7 linked regions of the Homo sapiens genome follow. The protein of the gene in region 5 purifies or fractionates together with the protein of the main gene of each other region. This does not show direct contact. Each region holds a gene or a part of one and is shown on either strand. Other genes may lie near its edges.

Region 1 (3,500 bases), on a different chromosome or scaffold from region 5:
CTTATAAGAATCATCTGTTTTTAGTTTGGGACAAAACTTATTGTAACACCCAAAGAGATAAAATATATGAGTAGGAGTAAAACTGGAATCCCAATAATGTGACTAAGGGGCTTTAAATTGTGCCTTATTATTGAAATTATTTAAATCAGTAATAGCGAATTATAGATCCAGGGAAACTTAGTTACAGAGAGATATTGGATTGATGAAAAAATAAAATATGACTAATTTGTGGTCCAATTTTCAGTGATGCCCAAGCAATTTCTCCAGTAAAAAGGCAAATTCCGATTTTAAGATTCATTTCCCTTCTGTCAATAGAGTATAGTGAATTGAGTTATATAGTAATTGGCTTTTTATTACAATTGGAACAGTAACATTGTAATGCCACTGGTGTGCCTTGGCAAGTTACTTACCTTTTATGGATCACAGTTTCCTCATTTACAAAATGAGGATCATTTCTAAAGCTTATTCCAGCTCAACGAGTCTGTGATTCTAAAACCCTAACGAAAAAATAAAGAGATAAGGGGGTCTGAAAGCACGTCTTTACCGTAAGGTAATAACCTTCTGCCAGGACGAGTGCAGTCAATTGTGTTATTTCATTCAGAATTTGAAAATAACTTCATAATAAAAAGACAAAGCAATCAAGGAAGAATTGCATATCTATATATAGAGAGAGATGCACTTGGTTATCTGCCTGCCATTCAAGCATCTTAAAGGTATTTCAAATAGGAATTTTCGAAGCAAAACATGAGCCACGTTTTCTTTCTTTCTTTTTTTTTTTTTCTATAATGGTAACAATTGTGTCACCAGTCCCACCCAACAGACCAGAAGGGTGGCAGCAGCTGCTGCGTGGGCTCCTCCAGAGGCAATGCAGCAGGGTGTCAGCCCAGCAAGATGCCCCGCCCACTCCTGTAACACCTCCCTGACACCCCGGAATGAGCAGAGCAGAGACAGGAGTAGGAGCTGCATTCTTCTGCGTTCTGCAGAGACAGCAGAGCAGCGGGTGAGGCTCTGAGCCATACCCTGGCTGTCCCAACACTGCCTTCACGAAGGGGGCTAGCTCCACGACTGAGAAGTAAACAGTGGCGGCTGCAGCCAGCGCTGCAGAACCCTGCCTCCCTTCCCCTCTGCCAACCATTCCTCCACACCCCCACCTCAGCTTGCATATCACGCAGGACTTGTAGCTCCATGAAATCGAGGGGAAAAGAAAGATTTATCGTCCACCCTCTCCTGCTACTTATTTCCACTCTACTGATGCTGCTTTTTTTTTTTTTTTTTTTTTTTTTTTTTCGTTTGTAGGCAGATTGTATCTTACGGTCTACTTTATTATGTTCAAAGTGAACCTGTTAACCTCTTTTGCCTGTGTTCCGTAGCTGTGAATGAGTCTGTGCTTTTGAAGGTACTATATCGGTGCAGCTCTAGTTGGAACACTGAATAATACTAAAGGGTGGATTTTTTTTTTTTGCAACAAGTATATAAAAATCTTCCTTAGTTAATACTAACAGAAATTTGTTATTCTATCCCTGTTTCTCTCTGCTGCATAAAAAGTAAATGGTTACTAATTGAAATTATATCAGCACAAATGCAATTAATTTTGAAGCAGCAGGCCGGGCGTGGTGGCTCACACCTGTAATCCTAGCACTTTGGGAGGCCGAGGCAGGCGGATCACGAGGTTAGGAGTTCGTAGACCAGCATGGTCAACATAGTGAAACCCTGTCTCTACTAAAAATAAAAAAATTAGCCGGGCATGGTGGCAGGCGCCTGTAATTCCAGCTACTTGGGAGGCTGAGGCAGGAGAATCGCTTGAACCCAGGAGGCAGAGGTTGCAGTGAGCCCAGATCGTGCCACTGCACTCCAGCCTGGGCGACAGAGCAAGACTTTGTCTCAAAAAAAAAAAAAAAAAAAATGAAGCAACATTGTATCACTGAATGGAGAGTGATAATCAATATTCCCTTTACTTAATGAATGCCTTTGAAAGCATAACTTGGTCTGCATTCTGTGTTTCCTTTCATGCGGTATCAGCACCAATTCAAGTTCATTACAATATTTTAATGCTATCTGTCATTCAAAATCCAGAATTTGAGGCACGTAAAACCACAATATTAAATTTTGAGGGTGAAAATCATTATTAACGACTTTATTAAAACATTATATGAAAAGTTATTAAAGTATTTTAAGTAACAAAATTTATTTACCTTAAATATTAAATGGCACCAAATTGAGTACAAATACATGTTATTGACTACATTGAACATGACCTTTTTAAGTTTAATGTAGAAGTATTTATTTTCTTTAACCATATTTTCTTATTAAAGTTTAAGCCAAAACATATTTATTCCGCTGCAAATTAGGAGACCTTCAGTGTGTCACATTTTCAAATCTTGAGATATTTTTTGCCCCCATCCCCAATTTTCTTATTTCTACAAATTTCCGATTGCTACTGTGACATCATTATGGATCTCAGAATTTATCTATACTTCTTCTGAAATTTAGATTTTTAAATGCAACACTTTCGAAGTAATAGATTTCCCAAATGTACTAAACTCTATGGAATTTTCAATAAATGTATTTTCCATAAATCTACCTGCTCTAAGAGTTAAATAAAACAATAATAACTTTTGGAAGTGTGTTTACTAGTTTGCTAGGGCTACCACAACAAAGTGCTATAAAGTGGATGGCCTAAACAACAGAAATTCATTGTCTCACAGTTCAGGAAGCTAGAAGTTTGAGACCAAAGTGTCACCGGGTTGATTTTTTTTTTTTCCTGAGGGCTGTAAAGAACACCCGGTTCCATGTTTCTCCCCTACCTTCTGGTTGGCTGCTGGTAATTTTTGGCATCCAGTGGTTTATAGAAGTTTCACCCATCACTGCCTTCACATTCATATGATGTTCTTCCTGCCTGAAAAGCTGTGTCCAAATTTCCCCTTTTTTTATAAGGACAGCAGTCATATGGGAATAGAGCCCACCCTAGTGACCTAATTTTTTACTTTTTCAACTCAGTAAAGAGCAATAAGGTCAATCTCTGAGACACTGGTGGTAGAATTTCATCATATGAATTTTGTGAGGACACAATTCAACTCATAACAGTCTTATGATAACAGTAATGTTCTTCCATATATAAGTTTTAAAGAAACAAAATTAACTAGTTGCTATTGTTACCCTGTTTCAGAGATAAAGAAACATAAAAGGTTGAATATCCTAATCTGAAAATCCCAAATCTGAAATGCTCCAAAATGTGAAACTTTTTGAGCGTCAACGTGATGCTCAAAGGAAATGTTCATTGGAGCATTGCAGATTTGGGGTATTTGGATTTGGGATGTTCAACTGGTAAGTTAATGCAAATATTACAAAACCTAAAAAAAATTTGAAATTCAAAACACTTCTGGCCCTAAGCATTTCAGACAAAGGATTTTCAACCCTTATTCTATTTGTTTAGTTTAAAACATCTGTCTTATTAGCCTCAGGTGTTTGTAGATTTGGCCACAGCATATTAGATTAGTATT
Region 2 (3,500 bases), on a different chromosome or scaffold from region 5:
TGCACTCCAGCCTGGGCAACCAGAGCAAAACTCCATCTCAAAAAAAAAAAAAGAAAGAAAAAAAAAAAGAAAAGAAAAGGAAAGAAATTACAGATAGAGAATACAATATCTAGAAGACAAAAGAGGGTCATCTTGCCGTGTGGCTGAAAGAGGGAGGGAGGAAGGGAGGGAGAAAGAGGCTTTTCTAAGGACAGTGAGCTGAGACTTGACAACTAAGATGGGGCCAGACATGAAAGAGAAACCAGGGGTGCTGCACAGGAGGCTGGTGGTTTTGAAGCACTGAGGAGGAAAGCGATCAAGGGGAGAGGTGATGGGGGTTGGGGGGTAAGTCACATAGGGGCTAGGGGCTGTGGACAGGCACTTGAGCTTATTTAGATTGTTATTGTTAGATTGGGGAGGAAGGATTCCACCAGTAAGGAGGCAACAAGAGGTCTAGGCAAGATATGGGAGTTGACAGCTGGTCTAGGCTGTTAGTGGAGAAACTGGGAAGCAACAGCTGGGTCAAAAGTAGCTTTTCTTTTCTTGTCTTTGTCTTTTCTTTTATTTTCTTTTTAAGACAGGGTCTCGCTCTGTAGCCCAGGCTGGAGTGCAGTGGCACGATCTCGGCTCACTGCAACCTCTGCCTCCCAGGTTCAAGTGATTCTCCTGCCTCAGCCTCCCAAGTAGCTGGGATTACAGGTGTATGCCACCATGCCTGGCTAATTGTTGTGTATTTTTAGTAGAGCAGTGTTTCTCCATGTTGGCTAGGCTAAAAATAGCTTTATTTCTGCCTCGTTTTATGTTCAGGTCCCCCATTAGACAGAGGAACCAAGGCCAGAATGAGGCAGGGGCACTGGCCAATTGATCTCCCAAGCACAGTGAATCTGAATGGTTGTAGAGTTGTGTAATGGATCCCACTGAGGTGATCAGGGCCCAAAGTGGAGGGTAGATGGCCAGGTTTTAACAAAAGAGGGAATAGTAGTTGAGGCTGAGGGTCCAGGACCAGAGCCATGGCTTTCTGTATGGTAGAGTCAAGACTTTGGGCAACTGGGGGCTGCAGTCTGGGAGCACAGGAGCAAGAATTTCAGATAAGGAGGAAGAGGAAGAAGAGGAGGAGGAGGGTTCATCTCTCTGGACACAGGTTCGCACCACAAATCTCATCCATTGGGTTCTTAGCAGGCTCTGGGTTGGGTGTGCCCCCACACTCGGAACTCACCAACCCAGCCAGCAACCTGGCAACTGTGGCAATCCTGCCTGTGTGTGCTGAGGTCCCCATGGTGGCCTTCACGCTGGAGCTGCAGCACGCCCTGCAGGCCATCGGTCAGTGGGGTGAGGGTCATGGGTGGGGGCTGGCGGTGGGTGGGACATTAGTGAGTGAGAGATGTTAGGGTAGGTCATTTGGGGGGTGGAGGGGAACAGGGCCACAGGGGCGGGGTAATGGGTATTCTTTTCTGAGTTAGGCCCCAGCCCTGTGGACCATGGTTCCCAGCCTCCCTTCCCCACCTACCCCTAGGTCCGACGCTACTCCTTAACAGTGACATCATCCGGGCACGCCTGGGGGCCTCCGCACTGGATAGGTGTGTGTTGCAGAAGGGAGTGGGGAGGGTGGTGGGTGGGCCTGGAGCCTCAAATTCTTTCAGACCTGAGTTCAAGTTCTTGGCTTCCAACCACGGAGCCTGCGTCTTACCCATAGGTCAATGGGGAGATTCGCAGTGGTGTGAATCTGCCCACCGGAGCACGGACTTCCGTGGTGGGGGTTTGGGTGTCTAAGTTCCTCCCAGCAACGGAGCTATGTGGTCTCGGGGAGCACACTGACCCCAGGCCAACCCCAGGATGACGCTGCCCCCTTCCCACCCTAGCATCCAAGAGTTCCGGCTGTCAGGGTGGCTGGCCCAGCAGGAGGATGCACACCGTATCGTACTCTACCAGACGGACGCCTCGCTGACGCCCTGGACCGTGCGCTGCCTGCGACAGGCCGACTGCATCCTCATTGTGGGCCTGGGGGACCAGGAGCCTACCCTCGGCCAGGTCGGAAGCCCGTGCCCCCTGATCTCACCCACCTCGGGTCCCGTCCTTTGCCCTCCCGTGCCTGCACCAGGCCACGTGCACCCTCGCCATGGGGGTAGGCGATCAGGGACCCAGGTGTGGCCAGGTGGTGGTGGGGCGGCTGGTGACCTCAGCCGTCCGTATTCCGCAGCTGGAGCAGATGCTGGAGAACACGGCTGTGCGCGCCCTTAAGCAGCTAGTCCTGCTCCACCGAGAGGAGGGCGCGGGCCCCACGCGCACCGTGGAGTGGCTAAATATGCGCAGCTGGTGCTCGGGGCACCTGCACCTGCGCTGTCCGCGCCGCCTCTTTTCGCGCCGCAGCCCTGCCAAGCTGGTGAGGAGCGGGCCGGCCCCCACCTTCTAGGGGCGTGGCTGGTGGGCGAGGCTTGGGAGACTGGGGCGGGGCCTGGGAGGGCTGAGGACAGGCTCGAAGGTCAGGGTACCCCTGGGGGATCCGCCGGACCCCGCCCTCATGCTCCTGGGTCGCGACTATCTCCCCCATCCCAGCATGAGCTCTACGAGAAGGTTTTCTCCAGGCGCGCGGACCGGCACAGCGACTTCTCCCGCTTGGCGAGGGTGCTCACGGGGAACACCATTGCCCTTGTGCTAGGCGGGGGCGGGGCCAGGTGAGGGCGGGGCTTGCTCTCTGGGGGCGGGGCCTGGATGTCCGAGGGTGGAGCTTCCTGGGAGAAACCGTGGGGGCGGGGCCTGGGTGTTCGAGGGTGGAGCTTCCCCTCCGGGAGAGACCCCGTGGGTAGGGGCGGGTCCTTTGTTCCTTAGCAGTGCGGGAGGTGGGAGGAGGTAGGGGCAGGGGAGTTCCTGCAGGTGGGGCCTAGCGGGTCACTGGGGCCCATTTTCCCGGCAGGGGCTGCTCGCACATCGGAGTACTAAAGGCATTAGAGGAGGCGGGGGTCCCCGTGGACCTGGTGGGCGGCACGTCCATTGGCTCTTTCATCGGAGCGTTGTACGCGGAGGAGCGCAGCGCCAGCCGCACGAAGCAGCGGGCCCGGGAGTGGGCCAAGGTGTGTGTTGCGAGGAGGGATTGCTGCACCCCAGGAGTGCCATAAAACCCGTGGTTCCAACCTAACCTGATCCCATGGGGGAGCCTCCGGGGTCAGGGTGACCCTTCCTGATTAAATCTATGATCCCCAGCTGTCCGGACTTTTATAGATAAGCTTCTAGGACTCTGGGTAACCACTTTGGGACCTCCTGTCTACTGACCCTAACCCATAACCCCCAACGAGAGCACCCAGGGCCCTTGGTGACCACCTTGTGGATGGCCTTGGATGACCACATCATCCCTAAGTGTTCCTTTTTTTTTTTTTTTTTTTTTTTTTTTGAGACTGAGTCTTGCTCTGTCGCCCAGGCTGGAGTGCAGTGGCACAATCTCGGCTCACTGCAACCTCCACCTCCCAGGTTCAAGTGATTTATCCGCCTCAGCCTCATGAGTAGCTGGGATTACAGGCACGCCCCAC
Region 3 (2,908 bases), on a different chromosome or scaffold from region 5:
CCAGGACCTGGGTGTGGGACATGGAATGGAGAAGCTATTCAGAGGCATCTGGATCCAGTGCTGCCTCTACTGAGGAGGAGCTGAGGTCTGCCCCTCCCATCAGCCTCCAAGATGGAAAACCTTAAAACTCCAGTCCAGGCAGTGGGAGGGAAGGAAGCCAAAATCTAGCCCAGTTTCTTTCTTTCTTTTATTTTAGCCTCTACAACCTTGTGGAGGCTGCGTTTCCTCATTAGTATGGAACAGTGAACCCAGATGGTCTCCGGAGTTGCTTCCTGCGGCGATGCCTTATGATGTGAAGTAATAGCTCTCCCTTCCCCACCGCAGAAGTGGTTTGTGGGTGCTGGCCTAGGATGTGCCACGAGTCCTCCAAGGCTCCTGTGTGCGCATGCAGCCTTGCCAGGCCCAGAGCAGAATGTTGGGGGAAAGTCCTGGAGCTCAGTGGGGGAATGGCTGGGCCGGGGTCCACTCCCGTTTCCCCAAAGCAGACCCTGAGGCAAGAATCTGGGTGCAAGAGGTTTATTTGGGAGCCATCCCAGGAAGCCCAAGGCGGGGGAGTGGGGAAGAGAGGGAAGGGAGAGCCCCCGCAGGAAGTACATGAATGAGTGGGTTACTGCTGCGGGCAACTGGGACTCCATCCTGCTGGGCATCCTCTGAGAGTTTATGTAGAATACACTTCAGAATTGTCCTGCTCAAGGACAATGAAGCTGAGGTCCTGCTCCTTATTGACTCAGGGTTGCTGCTCCTGGGGACATTAACCCCCCAACACTTCTAGCTTGCCCAGTGCACTGACTGAGCACACAGCTGTGGCCACCAGAGAACCTCTTTGGGCTGTGATACAGGAAACCATCGGTGTGCATGGTAACTCTCTAGCAGTGTCCTTCATGCCGGGACATGGGGACACGGGCAGGCACTGCTGGCATCTGCTAACCCCGGAGGCCCATACTTCAGAACCGGTCAGCTGGGCCAAGGCCTCTCTAAGGCCCAGCGGCTCTCATGGGCAAATGTCAGGTGACACAGAGTCAGAGACCCTGGCCAAGGACTCCCCATCCGGAGAGGTCCCAGAGGGAGGGGCGAGGTGGCCTCTGGGGGGAGCTGGGCGGTGGGGCAGGACTTGACTCAGGACACCACCCTCTCCTGCAGACACTGGGCCAGGTGCCTGTGCCGAAGGACCCGGGGCATCGCAGGGGGGAAGGGGGAGGAGGGGCAGGCAGCGAGGGCTGCCCGGAGTGCTCGGAAGGCTCCCTGCCCCACCAGGTGGACTCTGGCAGGGCCCACGCTGCCCCAGAACCGCAGGGACTTGTAGCGGGGAGAGGCTTCCTGAAGGCAGTGGTCCAGCTGGGAACAGAACAGCCTGAGTGAGCTGGTGTGTGACTGTGAGTGTGCACACGAGGCGTGTGTGGCTGTGCCCAGGCTACATGTGTTTAGAAGTTTTGTGTGGACAGGTGTGTGTCTGTGGGACTTAGCCCTCCCCTCCCAGAGCCCCAGGGAGCTTCTCCTCCGCCACCCCTCTCCTTCCCATCAGCCCTGATCTCCATGGCACCCTGGGAGTGTGCAGAGTGAAGGGGTCTACAGTCAGACCCTGTCCTCGTCTCCTTTACCTTGTCTCGATTTTCCTCTGACAGATTCCTCAGCCCCCTCAGCGCCACAAACACCTCGTAGTGGGGAGCAGAGCCCGCAGAGGAATCTGTGAATAGACCCCATGTGCACACATACTTCCGGTGAATGGGCAGCTGCCAAGTCTAGTGTCCTCTGCCCTATCTGTTCTTCCCCACTCTGAGATTCATAGGGAAAAAAGAGTTTCTTGGTGGGGAGTGGGGTAAATGGAGAGGAACCTAGAGCTTGATCCTAAATAGGAGACAGATCAGGAAAGAAAATGGGTAGAGACTGCAGCAGGATGGATGAGAGTTAGATGCAGAGAAGGACTTTTGTAGGAGTAGTAAAGGAGGCTTATCTCTTTCCTAGCAGTCCCCTGGCAGGGGAGGTAGGAGTTGAAGGGTAGCTCAAGGATGGTAGGCAGGAGCCGGTGGGGAGGCTCACCCAGAATGCTGCTCTCCACACAGCCATGGTCCAGCAGCTTGGCCCCCGCCCACTGCCCCACTGCCCGGCCCAGGGCCTCAGAGAACAGGTCTTCACCAATATCTTCCCCTCGCACACTCAGGGTCTGGTCCAGCCTGAAGAGGAGGAAGGGAGAGGCAGTGGAGCCCAGGACACAAGGATGGCCCTTCAGCTCCCCGGGGTCACCTACCTGCAGATGAACCTGACGACTGGACACTGATTGTAGGCACCAACCACTCGCACCACATCACCCAGGCGGCACCTGATGGGGTGCAAGTGGGAGTGAGGTCGGGCCCAAGGTCTTCTGAGCTCATGCCCCAGGCCCCCAGCACGGTCCCATAGGGCCCCAGGTAGCAGGGGCTGTGCAGCTGATCACCTGGTGAGGCTGGCGCGGTCCGTCAGCACCAGCTCATACTCCTTGCCCTGCTGGGCCTCGGCCAAAAGGAGGGTGGAGGCAGCTTCCTCCTGGGTGCCTTCCTTGACTGGGAGCAGCTCGATAAAGGGGGCCCCAGGGGGCAGAAGGTAGAGCCCATGGGGCTGCTCTGGCTGTAGGTTTAGGCCCAGCACCCCTGTGAAAGCAAAGCAGCCTCCTCAGCGTCTGCTGGTGCCATCGCTTTCTGCCAGGCAATAGCCCCTCCTGGATCCCAGGCCTGATCCTCTGAGCACCTGATCCTCCTGCTGCCCTTCCACCACATCCTTCCTGGCTCCCCCAGCCTCAGCGGGCTGCCTCTTAGGCCCTCACTGGAAAGAGGCAGAGTGCTGTGGTCCTGGAGGGGGCAGACTTGGGAGTGAATCCTGGTGCCACATGAATTTGTGCAAGACTCTTTTTTTTTTTGAGACAGAGTCTCGCTCT
Region 4 (3,500 bases), on a different chromosome or scaffold from region 5:
ACAATATTCTAGTGTAAATGCTAATTAATCAGTTGGATATAAGGATCAGCGACCAGGACAGTAATTTAGTTTGGGAACTGTTAACATACAGACTGTAACTGAAGCCATACGAGGGATGAAATTACCTAGAGAAAGGGTAAGGAAGAGTGGCTCTCAAACTTGGTGACACACGAGGGCTACCAGGGGAACTTTTAAAAGTTTTGATGCTGGCTACTCTGGGTGTACTATTATGGGTTAGCCCTGCTCTGCAAGAAGCACTTATAAAACAGAAAAAAAAACTTTTTTTGATGCCCAGCCCGCAGTCTTGGACCAATACATAAGAATCTTTGGGAATAGGACCCAGGCATCACTTCCATAACATTTGTAAACTTCTCCAAGTGATTCCAATGTGCAGCCAAGGATGAAAGGAAAAGAAAGCCTGAGACATTAAGAATTAATAGTACTGTACTACAGAAAGGACAAGAGATTAAGAGATTAAGCAGGTTTCTAATCCCAGCTACCTCATAATGTATCTCTCTGACCTCAGTCTACTTCATATCTCTACATTCTAGTTTAGATCAACAGAAAAGTGATAGTAGGTTTATCTCATATATCCCCTATAGTCCCAAAAATCTGAGGCAAAATTACAAAATTGAAATATTTCATTCTTTCTTTGCAGTTTGAGCAGGGGAAAGGGGAGCATAGAAAAACAACTATCAACCAATTACTGGTAGTAGAATATATTTTTATGAATAATTTTCCCAGGCCAATAACATTTTTAAATGACTGTACTGTTAACACATCAAATAGTATTTGATAGTATAGTATTTGTTAAGCCTGGAAGCATTCTAAGTGGACTAGTTTTGCTGTACCATGCTACTCTCCAGATGGCAACTGTAGAAAGTTCAAAATGGTGGTGTGAAATTTAACTTGGAAATTCCTTAATTCAAAATTTTATCTTTAGAAAAGTAAACATTTTCTAAAGATAAAAAAGTAGGCCGGGTGCAGTGGCTCACACCTATAATCCTAGCACTTTGGGAGGCCAAGGCAGGAGCATAGTTTGAACCCGGGAGTTTGAGACCAGCCTAGGCAACATAGTGGGATCCTGTCTCTACAAAAAATTTAAAACATTAAAAAAATAGCCAGGCGTGAGCTCGTGCCTATAGTCTCAGCTACTCAGGAGGCTGAGGTGGGAGGATCACTTGAGCCCAGAAGATCAAAGCTGCAGTGAGCTATGATCATGCCATTGCACTCTAGCCTGGGTGACAAAGCAAGACCCTACTTCACAAAAAAAAAAAAAAAAAAATTAGTAAACTGCAATTTAAGATTTGGGAATTGGCCGGGCATGGAGGCTCATGCCTGTAATCCCAGCACTTTGGGAGGCTGAGGCGGGTGGATCATCTGAGGTCAGGAGTTCGAGACCACCCTGGCCAACATGGTGAAAACTCGTCTCTACTAAAAATACAAAAAAAAAAAAAAATTAGCTGGGTGTGGTGGCGAGCACCTGTAATCCCAGCTACTTGAGAAGCTGAGGCAGTAGAATCACTTGAACCCGGGAGGCAGAGGTTGCAGTGAACCGAGATTATGCCACCACACTCCAGCCTGGGCGATGAGAGCCAAACTCTGGCTCAAAAAAAAAAAAAAAATTACCATTTCTACATTATTTTCCAATTTCGAAATTAACTTTGATTTACATATTTTGAGGAGTAGATCCTCTATGCTAACAACACAGTATTCAGAAGATGAAGGAAAAAAAAGGCTTCATGCCATGACTTCTGTTCCCGTTAGATGAAGTTTACTTTGCAGGTCTTAATTTAACTGAGCAACTTTAGTCTCTGTGGGTAATTCCCACTACACTCTTCAAATTTAATTTTTACCATCTCACTTCAAACTCCACAAAGCTGATACAGATGATGGTATTATTAAAATTGTTAAAGCACAGTTAGCATATGCAAATATTAACCAGCATTTGTAAACCACTTCTGATTGTTTTTTATTACTCCCAAAACAGAATATGAGTGCTACAAAAAGACAGTTAAATATACAGCCTTCAATTTGAAGACAATGGGATGAGACAGTGGACAAATGTCTCCTAACGCTAGACAGACAAGCGGCAGTTTGTTCAACTTGAAAGATTCTCCTCCATCCCTCTTACAACATTTAAGGTTAGAACTGAAGGACACAGAACTTCACAGAACTTGCAAAATCTCCTGGCCTCTAAAGCACTGCTGTGAGAAATAATCATCTAGCCATTAAGGACAAAGACTTACGGCAATTTGCTAAGTAATCTTTCAAAAGATTCATTCAAACTGGTTTGTCAATGGGAAAGAGCATTTAATAAATCTGAAGATTTACAAGTGAAATTTGAAGTTTAACATTACAAGGATAGAAATTATGTCAGGTTATACCAGAACAAATGAATTATAGGGAGATGGGAATAAATTTTAAGAGCCTTAGGGAGGATTAGTACTGTAAAAAGAAACTCAAGACTATCTTACTTTTACGTTCCCCTCAAAAGACTTTTAGGCAAAGACTGTCCTGTGTTGGTTTGTATTGAGCAATTACCAATATTAGTAAACAACTTGTAATGGTCACTAATTTTTAAAAAATAATTTAAAAAGTTCCTTAAGAGCCCTGACTCACTAGACACTTTTAAGATCCTAGATGTACATAGCTGATACAGCACAAATTATTTTGCCAATAATCTGCTCCTCTAGCAATGAAATGCTAGTATAGAATGTGACACTTTTCTTTGATCTAAATCCTAAAACAGTATAATTATTTTGATGGAAAATCATGATACCCAGACACTGCCAAGAAAATGAAAATAATACCAGGACAGATTACAAGAGATCAAAGTTTGGAAGACCACAAACTCTTTTATGAGAATCTACAACATAGCAAGAGACTGTAAGGGAAAATAAATTATATTTCAAAAGTGAAGCCCTGCTACAAAAAGAAAATGCACTTTATTTACATTGATAAAACCTGCCAGAGCTTTAAAGTTGCTGAAGATACTGCTGAGAAAAGCTAAACTGAACTGCAGATTACCTCAAAGCACACTGTTTTCATGTGTTGTGTAGGTTATCATTAGAGTTTGCAGACAAGCTCTTTTAAGATGTTGTAGCCACTGCTCCAACTAAAACATACACATTAAGCAGGTCATCAGGAGCAAAGGAAAACCTTGAACAATTTTGCAAGCTGATGGTACCACTGAAAGAACAGGAAGGGATATAGAAAAGGCAGGTAAATTTTAACTTAAACAGTCCAGGTTTGAGTTTAGAAGAGGACAGCTTGGCAAAATTAATCAACCAGCCCATAGAATTTACAAACAGTAGATGGGTCAGGTCTAGATTCACATTCGATGCCACTTGCCAGCCAGAGGTTCAAATATATGTCTACATATTCCCTCCAGTGACTACTGCTGAGCAACTATTAAGTACAAGGTACAGTGAGGCACTGCAGTAGATACACAAATAAGGAAAACAAAAACAGTTCCTGTGCTCAAGAAGCTTACAATC
Region 5 (3,500 bases):
TGTACAATTTTGCATACACACGTATGTACATGCACACATTTGTTTGTTCTGCTTGTTCACCATCTGTCTCTTCCCGACTGCCAGCCCTGAGAGGACAGGTCCCAGCTTTCTTCCCCGCCGAATCCTCAGGGCCTGGCTCTGGGTCCGGCATATGGTAGGCCCTTAACAATCCTGTGCTGAATGAATGAATGAACTGCATCATAACTGCCTGGCTATGTCTGCCTCTGCCCTGGGTTGAGAGCTGCTTGAAGCAGGCACCAGCTCTGCTTCACCTCTGGATCCAGAGCTGACTCTTGGTGGTGAATGGTGCCAAGGGCCTGTCGCCGTGTGTGGGTGTGATCGGGTGTGACTCATGTGTGACTGTGGGACCATGTGTAGGTGTAGGTGTGATCAAGTGTGCCTGCGAGTGTGTGACTAGGTGTGGTTGTGACTGTGGGTGACAGTGTGTGACTGTGTGTTTGTGGTTAGGGGTGAGTGGGCGAGATGGTGCAGGTGGGAGGCAGATAGGGTTTCAGGAACTCTTCTCTGGCTGCTCTTCACTGGGGTTAAGTTTGTAAGTTTGAGGGCAGACCTTCCATCAGGGGTCTAAACTCTAATATACACAGAGGCCAAACATAGTATAAATGAGAGATAAGGGCTGACAGATATAATAAAATACAGAGTGTTGGGAACAATGGCAAACAGAGAGCCTCTGTACCAGTGAAGGGGCAGCAGCAACATAGCTGCAGCCAATACCGTGGGCCCAAGGTTTAGCAGAAGTAGAAATCTATATTTTATGTCACATTTCCTCCATTCTCCCGTGTGTCGTAGGCCCTGGCCTGGGAGCTGCTAGCGTGGAGCCCATGCCCTCTGTTTCCCAAGGCCGTGGCCCTATGGCACTAGGCAAATGGGGACCCATAAGGATCAGCAGGGGCTGGCTCTCCTCGGACGAGGACACTCCTGGGTCTCTCTCCTGGGGCCCGCTAGCCCAGGTGGGTAAGGAGATGGTCCCATCACAGGGAACTTGCTCCCTCATTCGTCTGCCAGGAAGGCGCCTCCTACAGGTGTCCCAGGCTGGACACTGGACTCACGTATTCCTGAGCAAAGTCAATGAGGTTCTGGAGGTCAATGTCGTCCCGGTAGGCCTTGACGTTGTTGTTGATGAAGAGGTTGAGCTGGTCTCGAATCCAGTCCTTGAAGACAAAGGCCAGGATCCCTGTTGCCAGCTCCAGGAAGAAGATGAGACCGAGGAACACGGAGAACTGGGGTTGGGCATACAGACAGTAGGGGTTGGAAACGCAGGGCTCTGGTGACCTCCCAGGGCTTGGGTGTGCCACAGGGAAGGGCTCCATCCCTACCTCCACCAAGACCCAGAGGCGCCCAGAGCCCCCACCTTCTATTATTTTAGTATTGTTATATGATGGTAATAGGCATCTGTTGTTACCTACCCATCCAATTCCCTTTGTCTGGTAATCACACCCTGCTGTCTCTGAAAAACCATCCTCCATGCAAACCTTTAGTTTCCAAGGTTCGGATGGAGACACCTCCCCAAACCCACCAGTCCCAGATACAGGACTGGCAAGTGCCTAAAGCCCACCAATCAGAGCACTGCCTCCCTCGGCCTCCAGGGATTGGTCCAGAGGCAGCCAATCAGAGCCAAGGAAACGCAATTAAAGCACTTTGGGAAAACGGTTGGGAAGAGAGCTCTCAGCCTCCAGCAGGAGTTCCTGGGAGGGCATGGGGAAGCCGGCTCTGTTCCTGAGCCTCCTGCCACCTGGGAATGGAGCCAAACGGGGGGAGCCCGAGAAACAGGGAGAAACCAGGCCAAGTGAAACTGTGGCAGCCCCTGGATCAAAATGCACCGGCAGCCAGCACAACCCTGGACTTTTCTTATTTGAGTCAATAAATATTTTATGCTTGGGCCACCAGGTCTCGGTCACTTACCATACCACGGAAAGGATCCTAGTAAATATAGACAACATGAATCTAACGATGACGATTATAGCATAATAATAAAGCTACCCATCATTAAGCTCCAACTGTATTGCAAGAACTGGATGGGAGGAGATGGGGGTTCCCAGGGGATCTTGAGGGCAGCACTCACAAACTTGAGCAGGAAGGTGTTCTCCCGGAGGGCCCCAATGCAGCCAGCAAAGCCCAGCACCGACATGACGCCTCCAACTACCACAAACAGCCACACGGGGTCAAGGCCTCCCAGATCTGTCAGCGCTGAGATGTTCGAGAGAACGCCCTGTGCCGGGCAGCAGAGGCAGGTGTGGGGAGCTGACCTTCCCACCACCTCGTCCCATACCAGCTCCACGCCCGCCCGCTGCCTTACCTTCTCACCCCAGGCCCAGAGGCCGATAGCCAGGAACAGGGCTCCCAGCACCTGCAAGGGCAGCAACAAAGAGCTCAGGGCTGGGAGCAGCCCCAGGACCCTCCCCCCTCATCCTTCCCCGGTAGCCAGGGCCTTTCCAGCGGAGAGAGGAAGAGGCACAAGGGCTGTGAACGGGATCCGGGGTCCTTTCCATCTTCCCAAGAACACATCCCAGTGCTTCTTCCCCACAGGACACAGCCTGGAGGACTGAACCCTCTGCTAGCCTTGGGATGGACATCAGGGGCCCCTTCCTGGAACTCCAAATTGGAGCAGACGGTGGCCAAGACACTCCTGCCAAGGAGCAATAGCAGCTGTGTCAGCGGGGGTAGCGACGGCGCCAGTATACTGAGCCTCTACACCTGACCGAAGCTGGTGCTGGGGTTCCAGGCTCCTAGCCTCCTTTCTGCACCCTGCCAAGTCCAGCTCTCCTGCTACCCTAAAGCCGTGTGACTGCGGCCCCGCCCTCAACACTCCTCCCCAGCCCAGCCCCATCCTACCCCTTTAACCTCCGCCTGCCAGAGTCAGCTTCCACGGCTCACGACCAGACACCCCTGAATGACAGGAATCTCAATCATCCCTAGCAGGATCCACCTAGGATCTGGCCTGTGCCAGTGGCTTTGCCCCATGGCCACAGCTCTGCCTGGGCCTTCAGAACACCAGCTAGACTCCCCACCGGGGCAGTCCAAGTGCCTCTCCTCCATCCTCAGCTTTCCCACCTTCCTGCCTCAATTCCCTACTGGGAAGAGCCCTGGATGTCCAGGCTGGTCACTCTCACACCTGACCCTGGGCAGGTCCCTGGGCGTGCAGTCTCAGAGGGGGAAAGGCTGTCGTACCCAAGCCCAGGGCCATGACCCCACCTCCTGCGACCTCCCCACCCACCTGCTTTATCTGCAGGCTCCTTCCCCTCAGCACATAGCCACGGCCAAGGCCTTTATCACCTTCCCTTCCCTGACCGTGGGCTCCCCACACTGCTCTATTCTTTCTCTGGAAACATCTTCCCTTCCCTCCTGCCTGCTGGGTCTGCTGATGTGAAACCAAACATCACTTCTCCTGCCTCCTCCCACTTGGCCTGCCCTTGGCCTTCAGACAGGGGACTGAGTGCCACTTTCTCCTTCCTGAACCCCACCTCAGTTAACTCAACCCC
Region 6 (3,500 bases), on a different chromosome or scaffold from region 5:
AGATCACACCATTGTACTCCAGCCTGGGCAACAAAGTGAGACTTCATCTCAAAAAGAAAAAAGTAAACATAACTACACCAAAATTCAAACAAAAATATTAACACTGTTGCCCTTTATGTGAATATGAAAGTATTACCTCAAGTTGTATTTTTTAAAGCTAATTCCATTCCTGTTCTTTTATCCTATATAATAAGTCTTATCCCATATGATTTTAATATCTGATACTTTAATAAAATGAGTAAGGATTCTTCCTAATTTCTATGATCAGATACATGTATGTCATGGATAAGAACCCAACTGTTTTTTCTCTAAGACAAAAATCTAAGATACTTGGTCACTAAAAATCCACCAGCATTTTATATAATTGTTGGTCACTCCCTAATGCCAAGAGTCAGTGCAAAAAAAGCATAGAAAGGTGGCAGAAAAGAAGAAAAAGGCGAGGGCAGCCAATTAAGGCAAAAAGGAGAGGAACTGAGATGAAGCATGTAGAACATTTGGAGCCGGGGGGAAATCTCACTCCTCTCTAAAAGTCCCAAAACTGTATTTGAGTTTGGACTGATTTATTTCTAGGAAGCACCGCTGCTATTTCAGATCCGCTTACCTAGGCATCTTCTTTTCACCCTTTCCAGCTCATGCACTCTTCTGGCTGACAGCACAAGAGAAACTCCTAGTTTAGACAACTGGTAAGCCAGCTCCTCACCAATTCCACTCGAGGCTCCAGTCACCCACACCACCATATCAGTCAGCTCCCATTCTATGGAAGGAATGTAAATGGAAGGAAGAAAATAAGCAATGAATTACGCTCATAAATCCAAGATTAGAAAAAAAAAAGAAAGCCTTAAACAATACCACTAAATATGAAGGCATGATGTATAGAGTTAAAATTTGAAATATTCTAAGAAAGCATCTCCTTCTTAACTAAAAAAAAAAAAAAGCATTAATACAAATCATACTAGTAACAGTTATCAACACAGTATTTGTATATTACAGAACCTTCATGACTTTTCCAGACTTTACTTCAAGGTAAGCCTTATAACCTCATGGTTTCACTCTAAGGCTCTATTTAACACAAACAGGTAAGATAAATATGATAGATAAGATAAACAGGCTAAGTAAATACAAAAATCACTGTCTGGACTCACTTTTCCTTAGCCATTAAATGAGGCATTCAGATTAGATGATGGCTGAAGGTCACATCCAGTTTTTAATTCTATTATTCTAATATTTTGCAATGGAGGTTGATGAAGAATCTAAATATACCAAGTTCTGTGCTGTTGATGGAAACATCCTAGATTTTTAAAGTAGTATTTTCCCCATTTGCCAATAATGCCTGATGCCTATCAGCTCAAGGTCATTTTGTAAAAATGTTCCCCAGATGCCTGAGCTTTCATCTTAGGAGAATATAGTAATTCACCCAAGAACAAATGCATATTACAGAGAGATGAAATATTGTACTCTGCTTCTCCAATTATGTTCCTCTTAAAAGACTACAAATGTTACAGTACTAAAGCAATGACAAATGGTTTATTCTTTTCTCCAATGAAAAACTTATTAGCACTTCAGGAGATGATATTCACTGTCTCTCTGAACCCGTAAAGTCACTGTTATGCAAAGTTCCTGGGTGACTTATTTACTAAAATATATGTTATTTATCAAAAATATCAAATATCGTATCACTTAACATCACATTTCCGATTTTAGATCAGAAAAGTTAAAATCAGGAAATGATTGTACTGTTTTAAACAGCTCTAAATCCTAACTGTGATGTTAACAGTACCATCCCTGGAGACTGCCAGGGTTCAAATGCCAGCTCCATCACACACAGCACTGAAATGCTCCCAGGTGAGAACTTGGTGCCTTAATTTTCCACAACTGGAAATGTGATGAATAAGAACACATCCTTCACAGGATTGTTGAGAAATGAGTTAAAACATGGAAAGCACTCAGGGCAGTATCTAGTACATACTCAGTGTTTAATAAACGTCAATTATAATTATTGCTCAAGTTTTTTAACAGATGGACTTTACTACAGCAAAACATAGAACAGTCACTTAATAACGTATGTCTCCTAACTTCTCCAGCCAGGAAAACAGAGTTACCAATTCTAATGGCTTAACGTTTTTACATTACTTCCTATGTACTTAGCACATTGTCTACTAAAAGCCTCACCAGAACTGTATGGAAAGGTATTATTATCTCAGTTTTACAGAAAAGGTAACTGAGGTTTACAGAGATTAATTTGTCCCACTAGACCATAGATTCCATTAAGGGTAGGACCCTGTCTACCTTGTTCATTGCTGTGGCCTCAGTGCTTAGCAAAGACTGGAATATTGAAAAGGCTCCATAAATAACTACTGAATAAACACCCAAGAACCCTGGCAGAGCCGGGATATAAGCCCAGGTATATCTAGCTCCAAAGCCCACACTGTCCACTATTTCATGATATACACATTTACATATGATCAATATTTTAAAACCCAACTGTTTCTTAGACATTCAAGAAAATACCACTTGTCCTTAAGAAAAAGGTTCCATGTAAATATCTCAACTAAGGCCAGGTACGGTGGCTCACATCTGTAATCCCAGCACTTTGGGAGGCCAAGGCGGGCAGATCACTTGAGGCCAGGAGTTCGAGACCAGCCTGGCCAACATGATGGAACCTGTTCTCTATGAAAAATACAAAAATTAGCCAGGTGTGGTGGCGCATCGTTGTAACCCCAACTACTCAGGAGGCTGAGGTGCAAGAATTGCTTGAACCTGGGAGGCAGAGGTTGCAGTGAGCCAAGATTGCTCCACTGCACTCCAGCATGGGTGACAGAGTGAGACTCTGTCGGAAAAAAAAAAAAAAAAAAAAAAATCTCAACTAAGGATGGAAACATCCCAAATACTATGTCTGGGCTACAATGCTTTCCTGTCATATAACGTACTTTTGTGAAAAGGCACAATTGGGCCACCTTCCTATAGGACTTTATCAAGAACAACATAACATCTATTCAGATAATCATTTATTCATTCATTGACTACTTGTTGTTCCCAAGTTCTGCAATCATCACACTCTAGAGTGAATATCATTTGTTTTAGAAACACAGGATTTACTAACTAGTGTCGAGCTAACAAAGACCTCTTGATATTTACACACATAAGCAAATATTTAAAGCTGATGGTGTAAACTTTTAATACAATCACAATTCTGGCCTCTTCCTCCCACCCTGAAGAAACTTTTTTATTTAGCACCGTTTGTTTCCCGATTCCACAGAATCTGGTATACATAATGGCCTCCCTTTAAGAGCCCCTGAAAGTAGATTCTTAAGAGTTGAAAGGAAAGTGATAGTTCAACCCCCACTCCAGTTTGAGAATTCTCTTCTCAAGCCCTTGACCCATCTCTAATTCCCTCACAGGATGAGGAAGCTAATTATCTCTGAAGGCTTCAGCTCCTTTTTTGGGAAAGTCTAATCATTCCAGGGATCTTTTTTATACTGATATGATAAGCTTTTAAATGC
Region 7 (3,500 bases), on a different chromosome or scaffold from region 5:
TTTTCACGTTCACCTGGAACATTTACCAAGATAGTTTTTTTTTATTTGTAATTGACAAAACTGTATATATTTATCATGTACAACATGTTTTAAAACATGTATATATCATGGATGGCTAAATCAAGCTAATTAAGACAACATGCATTACCTCACATACTTTTTTTTTTGGTATGGTGAAAACACTTAAAATCCACTCTCTTAGCAATTTTCAAGAATACATTGTGACAGGAGAATGAGGGAAAGCTTCGGGAACCATGTCTTTAGGTAAGTGAGGCAACAGAATCAGGTGCACAAATGACCGAACAGGAGCACTGACAGTTACCATCTATTGTTAACAGGCAGAAAGGCAGAATACGTAAGTACAGGTACTGGTAGGTGGGTAGATCTTAAAAATAACTAGGCTATAGTGAACCATGATTATGAAGTTCATCTATAAGTACATCCTTCAAAAATGGTCTTCTGGAGAGCAATCTTTGAACATTCATTATTATTTCAATTTCTCTAAGTGCCAAAAAGCTATTAGAAGGCCTACCAGAGTGGTGGACAGACATCCTGGAATTATCTTAATTGAGATCAACTATTTCAGGTGACTACTCCATGGCACTAGACATCCTATTCAAGACTAAGTGAGGCACCAATTACCAATTCTAGAATAACTGTATTCCTATTAACCCAAAGTCCTCAAAACAGTAGCTACTATGAGGTTTTCCAAATGATTTCAGAAGTGAGGAAATCTAGCATTCTCTGGAACATCTTACAGGTATTGCTGCATGGTTTCAGGAACTTACTTGTAAAAACTACCAAATTCCAAAAAGCAGTCTCAACCTTGGCCCTGGAATTAGTTGTTTAGTCTAGTAGAGTTTTAAGAACATAATGACTAACATTAATTCTCACCAATGGATGATTACATAATCCATTCTCAATTATTTTCCCCATGTAAAAGATTATTCCTAATGTGCTCATAAATCCATATAGAGATGTAAGAATACAGTCAACAAATATTATTTACAATGCTAAAACCCTATAGAAAATAAAGTTACCAAGCACATAGTTCTATCACTTATGTGAGAAAATATTTCACTGCACTGTTCGACCAGTCAATATTAGCAACAAGTGCGCTCTTGAAATTCGGGAAGAACTACTTTTTACCAGCCACAAATTCTGACATTTTATAGTAACGAGTCACAGTTAAATAGTTTTCATTTGGATTCCCTGTCCTTTTCCATTTCTCACTAGAAAATTAAGTCTACATTTTAATACAATGAAGTATTAACTTCATTTGAAGTTGAAAAACTTCTCTTTTTCACAGGTAATAAGCTTATCTCCTAAATTTAACTCACAATCTGCACGTTATGTTACTAAAAACAAAAAAAAGTCCACTAAATATGAAACATCTACTATAAATCTGTGATCCTTGCCATTAAAGGAATCACATACTCCTTTGCAAATCTGATGAAAGTTATGTATATAATTTCAGGGAATTCACTGATACCTTGAAGCCTATTTATGGGTCCCCGAGGTTTAAAGAATCTCTGATTAATGGAAAATAGCATCCAAAATTGATCCAAGAACATATGAAAACTTAGTATGTGATTAAAAGAAGGAATGTTAACATACAGTTGGAAAAAATGATTTACTGAGAAAATCATGATAAATCTCTGTAAACATACAAATGGTTTAAAGAGCCAAATGTAATAAACTATAAAATACTATAATAAAATACAGAAAATGTACACAATCCTGGCTCTGGGTAAGTCTTCCTAAGCAAAATATGAAAACGACTTCCCTAAATTGATAGATTTAACTGTGTGTATTTTAAAACTTCTATATGAGCAAAACACACCATAAAGTCAAGAAACAAATGGCAAACTTGGACAAAAACAAATAAGAGGCCGGGTGCAGTGGCTCATGCCTGTAATCCCAGCATTTTGGAAGGCAGAGGGGGGCAGATCACTTGAGGTCAGGAGTTCAAGACCAGCCTGGCCAACATGGTGAAACCCTGTCTCTACTAAAAATACAAAAATTACCTGGGCGTGGTGGCACGTACCTGCAATCCCCGCTACTTGGGAGGCTGAGGCAGGAGTGAGCCGAAATCGTGCCACTGCACTCCAGCCTGGGTGACAGCAAGGCTCATCTCAAAAAAATAAATAAATAAATAAATAAATAAAAATAAAAAAAATTTAAAAAAGACATAGGATAGATAAAGGATTACTAATTCTAATATTTAAAAAAAAAAGTAAACCACCCAATAGAAAAATAGAAAAAAGTAACAAATAAAAGGGCAATAAACATGTAAAGATGTTCAACCTACCTAGAAATTAGAAGGTAAATTAATTGAATATATCATTTCACAGCTTCACACTGGCAAAAATTAAAAGCTGATTATCTTCTAGTGCTAATGAATGTGTGCTGGCAGTGTAGATTACTACATCTTTTGAAAAACAAAAAAATGTTGAAAAGTAGATTTTTAAATCTGTTAAATTATAAAATATGTATATTCTTTGTCCCAGCAATCTCACATACAGAATTCATCCTAGCACAAAATGACATCAACATGAGTTAAACGGACACATAAGGATGTTTCCTATAATTGTTTATAATACCAAGAAAGAAAAGAAACACTCAAAAAAATTATATATATATGTATATATACACACGCACACACACGACAGATGGGGGACAAACTGAATGTCCGTTACTAGAATAATGGCTTAATAATTTATGATACATGCATACTTTGGAATATTATACAGCTATTATTAATAGAATGAGTAAGTCACATCTATATGTACTGACCTGGAAAGATGTGTATAACATTCAAGGCAAAAAAAGCAAGCCGCATTGTAATATGTGGACTACAATGCCATATTTGTTTTTTAAAAAATAAAAATAAAAAGCTGTATTACTGAATTTTTTTTTTTAGGAATTCCTAATTAGTGAATTTCCCAAGTAGTCAATGAGTACACCTCAGTTTTGAATACATCTATTGCTCTATTAGAAGTCTCACCATCAAAATACTGTACTCTCAAATCAAGGTATATTAAAGCCACTATCAGACAATACTATCCTTTGGAATCTTCTACAATGAAAATGATAATAACTACTTTTAAGGACAAAATGTTTAATAGGTTTTTTATGCCAAAATAAAAATGCTTTTTTAACATTGTGATTTTGCACGTATGGAAAACAGCTAGATTTTTCTTTCCTATAGTAAAAATAAGCTATCTAATTCAGTTGTTTCATTGGGTAACATAATTATGTTCATTACATGAATCTAAACAAGGGGCAGACGTTACATTAAACCAATTCCTTTGTATCAGAAATTCAATTTTCTCTGAATGATATTCATTCTTAGCAATAAATGCAATTAAACACTGATATTACAATTTTAAAACTCTATTCAAATACCTAAATCTCAGCGTAATGTCAATATAAAGTCTTAAGCAGCCGGACATAATTAAAGGAGCACTTGATTTGGAATCATACATACCTGGGTTGCA

Evidence for each region.
Region 1: the proteins of TSPAN17 (region 5) and GPM6A purify together in Homo sapiens (affinity purification with mass spectrometry; 2 studies listed by BioGRID and IntAct, with this or other methods). This does not show direct contact.
Region 2: the proteins of TSPAN17 (region 5) and PNPLA6 purify together in Homo sapiens (affinity purification with mass spectrometry; 2 studies listed by BioGRID and IntAct, with this or other methods). This does not show direct contact.
Region 3: the proteins of TSPAN17 (region 5) and GHDC purify together in Homo sapiens (affinity purification with mass spectrometry; 3 studies listed by BioGRID and IntAct, with this or other methods). This does not show direct contact.
Region 4: the proteins of TSPAN17 (region 5) and SLC44A1 purify together in Homo sapiens (affinity purification with mass spectrometry; 3 studies listed by BioGRID and IntAct, with this or other methods). This does not show direct contact.
Region 6: the proteins of TSPAN17 (region 5) and DHRS7 purify together in Homo sapiens (affinity purification with mass spectrometry; 2 studies listed by BioGRID and IntAct, with this or other methods). This does not show direct contact.
Region 7: the proteins of TSPAN17 (region 5) and HS2ST1 purify together in Homo sapiens (affinity purification with mass spectrometry; 2 studies listed by BioGRID and IntAct, with this or other methods). This does not show direct contact.

Annotation. Positions count from the first base shown.
Region 1 is NC_000004.12:175,669,265-175,672,764, reverse strand, and holds part of GPM6A (neuronal membrane glycoprotein M6-a), read left to right. Parts: intron 1-3,500. UniProt on the Homo sapiens protein: Involved in neuronal differentiation, including differentiation and migration of neuronal stem cells. Plays a role in neuronal plasticity and is involved in neurite and filopodia outgrowth, filopodia motility and probably synapse formation.
Region 2 is NC_000019.10:7,552,717-7,556,216, forward strand, and holds part of PNPLA6 (patatin-like phospholipase domain-containing protein 6), read left to right. Parts: intron 1-1,155; coding exon of another isoform or gene 1,156-1,158; coding exon 1,159-1,299; intron 1,300-1,492; coding exon 1,493-1,556; intron 1,557-1,838; coding exon 1,839-2,007; intron 2,008-2,176; coding exon 2,177-2,359; intron 2,360-2,532; coding exon 2,533-2,651; intron 2,652-2,890; coding exon 2,891-3,047; intron 3,048-3,500. UniProt on the Homo sapiens protein: Phospholipase B that deacylates intracellular phosphatidylcholine (PtdCho), generating glycerophosphocholine (GroPtdCho). This deacylation occurs at both sn-2 and sn-1 positions of PtdCho.
Region 3 is NC_000017.11:42,188,587-42,191,494, forward strand, and holds the end of GHDC (GH3 domain-containing protein isoform 1 precursor), read right to left. Parts: intron 2,625-2,908; coding exon 2,432-2,624; intron 2,318-2,431; coding exon 2,246-2,317; intron 2,172-2,245; coding exon 2,038-2,171; intron 1,774-2,037; coding exon of another isoform or gene 1,685-1,773; coding exon 1,599-1,684; intron 1,336-1,598; coding exon 1,117-1,335; 3' UTR 501-1,116; downstream 1-500.
Region 4 is NC_000009.12:105,247,651-105,251,150, reverse strand, and holds part of SLC44A1 (choline transporter-like protein 1), read right to left. Parts: intron 1-3,500.
Region 5 is NC_000005.10:176,650,484-176,653,983, reverse strand, and holds part of TSPAN17 (tetraspanin-17), read right to left. Parts: intron 2,369-3,500; coding exon 2,318-2,368; intron 2,231-2,317; coding exon 2,084-2,230; intron 1,242-2,083; coding exon 1,071-1,241; intron 1-1,070. UniProt on the Homo sapiens protein: Part of TspanC8 subgroup, composed of 6 members that interact with the transmembrane metalloprotease ADAM10.
Region 6 is NC_000014.9:60,155,399-60,158,898, forward strand, and holds part of DHRS7 (dehydrogenase/reductase SDR family member 7 isoform 1 precursor), read right to left. Parts: intron 755-3,500; coding exon 602-754; intron 1-601. UniProt on the Homo sapiens protein: NADPH-dependent oxidoreductase which catalyzes the reduction of a variety of compounds bearing carbonyl groups including steroids, retinoids and xenobiotics.
Region 7 is NC_000001.11:86,917,635-86,921,134, reverse strand, and holds part of HS2ST1 (heparan sulfate 2-O-sulfotransferase 1), read right to left. Parts: intron 1-3,500. UniProt on the Homo sapiens protein: Catalyzes the transfer of a sulfo group from 3'-phospho-5'-adenylyl sulfate (PAPS) to the 2-OH position of iduronic acid (IdoA) or glucuronic acid (GlcA) within the heparan sulfate (HS) chain and participates in HS biosynthesis.